Regions from separate parts of the Homo sapiens genome. Here region 2 is linked to region 1. The links come from fine-mapping of genetic effects on gene expression. A gene starts in region 1. The other region holds a variant in brackets. All regions are shown on one strand. Distances are from middle to middle.

Region 1 (2,900 bases):
GTCCTCCCACCTAAGCGTCCCAAGTAGCTGGGACTACAGGTGCGCAACACCATGCCTGGCTAATTTTTATATTTTTTGTAGAGACAGGGGTCTCATTATGTGTGCCCAGGCTGGTCTCAAACTTCTGGCCTCAAATAATCCTCCTGCCTCAGCCTCCCAAAGTGCTGGGATTACAGGAGTGAGCCACCATGCCCGGCCCTATAAACCTCCTTTGAAAGCTTTCCTTGCAAGCTTTCCTTTTCCTTCCAGCCCCTGCAAATAAGGAAAATGACAAGGATGTTTGTTCTCACCATTCTTACTCCTCAACATTTGGCTGGAAGAACTAGTTAAGGCAATAAGGAAAGAAAAATAAATAAGAGATGTAAACACTGGGAAGGAGCAGATTAAACTGTCATTATTCATAGGTGATATGATTGTTGGCTTAGAAAATCTGAGGCTGAAAATTATTGGAGCTAATAAAAGGGTTTAGTAAATTTTGTGCATTGATTATGTAAATACAAGCAACACCTTTCCTATACCCTAGCAAAGCCTATTAGAAAGAGACACTTAAAAGACTTCCCTTCACAGTAGCAACAAAGCATAAGCCCCCTGAGCCGCTGCTGCCCTCGGAAGAAGCACAGCTCCATCCTTAGCTTGGCATTCAAGGCCTCTCCTAATGACCCCTCTGGCTTCAGTCCCAACTCATTCCCTCACTCTGATCACTCAGAAGTACCCACCTCTCCTCCACACCTTTGCACAGGCCATCCTCTCTGCCTACAATGACCTCAGCCCCTCCTTCTTCAGTTGTCAACTCATTGAAGGCTCAGCAGAAATGGCTCCTCCCCCAAGAAGCCTTCCCGGACCAGCTGAGCCCATACCATGTTCGGCACCTCCTGCTGTGGGCCTGATCCCAGCCCTGGGCACACCTGCCATGACGGAGGGACAGTTACAGAGCCTGGAGACCAGGAGACCCGCAAGGCAGGGAGTGAGCCTGACTCAGCCCCCAGCCATGGCTAGTACTCGGCACTTTCCCGGGGAAACCAGGAAAGTGAATCTGATGCCTGAGCTTGAGCGCGCGGGCATATACACACTTTTCTGGGCGTCGGTTTTGCACATCTGTGTGTTGGCCTGAGAGTGTCTCCCTGTATGTGCATGACTCTGCCCTGGAGTGTCCCCAGAGGGTCTGCCAGTGCTTCTGAGTCTGTGTCTGTGCCTGCATGCCCATCTTGGTGTCTTCTGTGTCTGTCTATCTGTGCTTTCTACCTGAGTGTGTCTGCCTGTGTATCGGGTGTGTGTGTGTCCACTGTGATTTGCGCTGGCCCTCTGGCCTGGTCGGCCTGGGCTCTGAGTGAGGCCCTTGGCCTGGAAGGCCACACGCAGAGCCGGAATGGTCCTCAAGCCCGCCCACAGCACCCCATGCCCTCCTGCTCCACCTGCCCAGAACATACCTGCTGAGCACGCAGCCTTGGCCCAGGAAGAACACAGCCCCCTGAGAAGCTGGCCCGTGGGGCCCTCAGAGCCGGGCCCTGGCTATGGGGCCTCTAGAGCAGCCTGAGCGAGTGACCAACAGCTGGGACTTCCCAGCCATGGTCAGCGCCTGCCAGGCCCACCCGGCCCCACCCACAGCCCTACCCTCCACCAGGACCCCATACTTTCACTTTCAGAGAAGTTCCCACTTCCTTTTCGTTCCGGAGGCAGTCACTCCAGCTTTCCATTCCAGACAGCTCAGGGCTCAGTCCAAGGGTCAGAGAACAAGGGAGGGGAAGGCTGCGGAGCTCGGCACTCAGGGTCTCGAGGCAGCAGGGGGTGGACGCTGCCTGCCACCCAAAACACCACCAACCTCTCCTTTGCTCAGAGGCCAGCGGAAGCAGGCGCTGGCCTCGGGGGACACTCAGCCCACAGTGCCGGAGCCCAGAAGGACCCCTCCCTCCAGGACAGAGGCTCTAGCACTGGGCCAGTCCATCGAGTTCATCCCGAGACCCCTGCACCCTGCCTGTCAGGGAAGCTCACGGTGACAGCAAAGGCAGCAGTTGAGAGCCACATGCCATTCCTGGGGGCTTCAGGAGCTAGAGAAAGGGATGGGGCCCTAGGGACAGACAGGACACACTCAGAAGTGAGAAGGGACGGCATCCTGGGCAGGGGCAAAGATGTGGAGGCGGGGCCCCACTCCCCACACCAGGGGGTCAGGCGGGCAACGTGCCGCAGGGAGGGCCACTGACACTTCCCAGAAGAGGCAGCCTCACCCCTGCATAGGGGGATTCCGCAGCGAGCGTCTTAGGAAACAACTCAGGGAAAATCCAAGGAGAACGGATCCAGGCCTGTCCCAACCTGGGCTGGGGCCACCAGGGTGTGTGATGGGGCTGCTGCAGGGTGCTGAGGTGGGCAGAAATAGCCTCCTGCACCAGCATCCTCTGGCTGAGGGCAGAGGTGGCCCCGTGCAGCAGCATCCTAGGACTGAGGGCAGGGAAGGCCCCATGCACCCAGTGTCCTAGGGCTGAGGGCAGAGACAGGCCGGTGCACCAGCATCCTAGGACTGAGGGCAGGGACGGCCCCATGCACCCACTGTCCTAGGGCTGAGGGCAGAGACAGGCCAGTGCACCAGCATCCTAGGGCTGAGGGCAGGGACGGCCCCATGCATCCAGTGTCCTAGGGCTGCCACGACAGGACCAGGGACTGAGCCTCAACAACAGACGTTTATTCTCTCCCAGTTCTGGAAGCCAGAGGCCCACAGTCAAGGCATGTGTGGGGCTGGTTTCTCCTGGGGCTGTTTTCTGGGTCTGTGGGTAGCGCCCCCCCTTCTTCCTGGGTCAACACAGGGCCTTCCCACTTCGTGTCTGTGTCCATATTTCCTCTTCATATGGGTTGGGGTCCACCCGAATGACTTAATTTTAACTTATTACCTCTTTAAAGGTCACGTGTTT
Region 2 (2,900 bases), 35 kb before region 1:
ACACATGTTGCTGGTTTGAATTCCACTTCTTGGCCTAAGCAGCTCCTCCTCCCTCCACCTTCCAGCTCCCCTCTCCTGCCCGCTGAGTGACTCCCACTCCCGCAAGCCCCTCCCAACACTCTCACCGGAAGGACAGGCAGTTGTTGATGTTGGCAATAACATTGGCCCTGTAATTCGTCAGCTGCTTGCCTCTCTCCAGAAATTCATTAAAGGCGCGCTGGTAGCTGGCGAAACCAGAAGGGGCACATTCAGGACCAGCCCAAACACTGGGACCACAGCAGCAGCCTCCCTGCCCTCCCTGCCAGCTCCTGGGGTTCACTTTTCTGTTTGGCTGCCCATAGCCAAGGGAGGGGCCGCTAGCCCCTGGGCATCATGGAACTGGCTTCACAAGCTAAGGCTTGGGCTCCTGAAGAGGGTACCAGCCCATCTCTGCTGCTCCCAGGCCCTCTCTAGAGTTGGGAGACCAGGTAGGAGTGAGCGTGTGGTTGGCTGGAGAAGCCCTCAGAGGTCGAGAGGGAGAGAGCAGAGAGAATTCAGGTGGTGGAGACTAGGAGTGTTGTATGAAGGGGTGGCGGGGTCTCAGTCCCTCCTGGGGTATCCTCTTTGAAGCTAGAGGCTGCTCTGCTGAGAGCTTTGCTGATGGGGTGGGCGCAAGAGGCTCCCACGTTGAATCCTGGTGGAGGTCAGACCACCTGAGGCTCTCAGTGCCCTGGCTGAGTGGGAAACAACTCCTGGCTCAGAATGACAGGGACAGGGGTAGAGGGCGGGGATCCAGCTCAGCTCCCCACCTGAGGCACTAGGGAGGGGCCGTGGCTCTGAGAGCGGTGGCTACAGGGACCCCATCCTGGGCACACACCCACCTCCTCAGGAACGCAGGCAGCTCCACCAGCAGCACCCGCTTTATCTGTGAGCCCAAGTCCAGCGTGATGCTCTCGGCCTTGGCCTGGGCCTGGGAGGTGATCTGCAGGGTGGTGGTGGGTGAGCTGAGCAGGGGCTCGCCTGGACAAGGGGGCAGGGGACGGGGAGGAAACAGGCGGGAACAGAGGGGGTGCCCCGAGGTGGGCATGGGTATGCACACAGGACGGAATGTGCGTGGGGCTCCCCATGCACGTGCACGGGCGGTACGTGTGCCCTGGGGCAGATTGCAGTACCTGGATGATGTCGATGGCCAGCTCGCTGTGGCAGTGGCCGTCCAGCCTCTGGGGAGGCACATCCTCAGCCCAGCGCCGTGCCTCTAGCTCCAGAGCTCGGTCCATCAACTCCCTCACATTGGCCTGGAGGAGGAGGGGCAGGTCACTGGGGCACTATCCCTCACCTCGCTCACCTGGAAGACCCGTCAAGCTCCCTGCCCATGTCCTGTCTGTCTCCGAGCCTCTCCTCTGCTGCCTCCCTGCCCCTCCCTGGCCCAGGTGGAGACTCACCGCCTCACTGGACAGGAATGTGGCCTCCAGCAGTCGGATCTGCCTGGGGGGCAGGAGGCTCCCGAGCCCCATACCCTGCAGCTCACCCACCAGCTTGGGGCTGTTGATGATGTCACTGCAGGCAGGGGAGGCTGGCATGAGGACAACTATACCAAATCAGCACCACCACTCAAGCTAGAGCCCAGGCCCTCAGC[C/G]TTGGTCTCTGGCAGGCCCAGACTGCCCAGCACACCCTCCCGCACCCCCACCCGGTCCCCATTTCAGATGATGGGTCCTCCATCTACTTAGTTTGGTTTGGAACAGAAACTCTGAAGTCATCATGCCTCCTCTGACTCTCTCACCACCCCCCCCCCATTAGGTCCTGCTCCAAAATAGCCCCCAAAATCAGCAGCCTCATGCCACTCTGGCGCCCTGGCCGGCTCCCATCAGCTCCCCGCTGGCTCACTGCAAAAGCCTCCTCCCGGCCTCTCTGCTCCTTCCCTCACCTCCAACAATTCCTTCTTCACCCAGCAGCCAGAGCCACCTTTAAGATCTGATCTTCTTCCTGCTCCAAGACTACCTGTCACCCAGATAAAACCCTGCTCCTACTCACAGCAGCCCTGGAATCCAGCCAGCTCCCAGCCCACTGCGCTCCAGCCCTGCAGGTCTTGGGCATCTCACCAGCCCCGGCCACCTCCCAATCCCAGGGGTAGGCCAGAATGGGCAGGAAGGGCTGCCCCAAACTGCTCCACAGACGCATCTTGGCTCACTGTCCTGGCGCCTCTGCAGCGCCCCAGAGCTCCCAGGGGACTGCCCAGCCCTGGCACTTCCTAAGGGCCCTTTGTCTGCCTAGAGGTTTACAAATGACCTTCTCTCTGCCCCTCACCCAATCCAGATGCAGCTGTGTCCCTCCGTTCCCCACATTTCTGGCACACAGGCTTCAACGATGCCCCCCTGGGCACCCTCTCACCAGGGCTCCATGCCCAGCTTGGCTTTAGTTGCCTGTTGCTAACCCCAGGCCAGCAGACCCCGAGGTCACTGGGACAGAAAGACTGGCAGGCAGGGGTGCAGGTGCCCGGCATTTCCTGGTGAGTCAGGACGAGCAAGCGGGAACTGGCTCTGGGCTGGGTTATCTCTCCCGTGGCCCCTGCCCTGTGCCAGTTCCCCTATGCCCTGCTGACTCCTCTCCCACCCTCTCCACTGGACCCTTTCTCTATCCTTCTGCCAGAGGCTGACCCTTCAACACGAACTGAGCCCACAGGCCACCCAAGGCCCCCGAGACGGCAGACACTGCCCACACTGTCTATACCTCCAGGCTTCCTTCCTAAAGTTTCACACTAGGATCTGGGGCCAGCAGTGGCCAAGCCCCACAATAACAGCCCCTGGACTCCCCCGCCCTGGGCCTTTCCACACTGCAGTAAGCCTCTCTCCATGCAGACCGTGCGAATGACGGGCACGCCCAGGGATCTATGGAGTCAAGGGACGCCTGAGGCTGTACTCAGC

Direction of the effects. Positions count from the first base shown, and alleles are read on the strand shown. Sizes are in standard deviations (SD) of each study's normalised expression.
In carriers of allele C in region 2, the expression in testis of the gene that starts at base 1,543 in region 1 tends to be higher than with G alone (small effect, 0.31 SD a copy in GTEx).

What was found. PIP is the estimated chance that this variant, and not a neighbour inherited with it, causes the effect.
Region 2: its variant is the best candidate, but not a certain one, in a credible set for the expression of EXOC3L4 in testis (GTEx, PIP 0.71).

What each region holds. Positions count from the first base shown.
Region 1 is chr14:103,093,368-103,096,267 of GRCh38, reverse strand. It overlaps EXOC3L4 (exocyst complex component 3 like 4), which reads right to left and starts at 1,543. Exons shown (of 12, transcript NM_001077594.2): 1 at 1,428-1,543. RefSeq lists enhancers at 965-1,534, 2,105-2,674.
Region 2 is chr14:103,128,376-103,131,275 of GRCh38, reverse strand. It overlaps TNFAIP2 (TNF alpha induced protein 2), which reads right to left. Exons shown (of 12, transcript NM_006291.4): 4 at 1,422-1,536; 5 at 1,152-1,274; 6 at 861-961; 7 at 126-224. Among named protein-coding and RNA genes, the nearest start is that of TNFAIP2, 6.4 kb to the right of the region's middle. RefSeq lists an enhancer at 2,301-2,900. The variant C/G (reference allele first, on the strand shown) is at 1,616.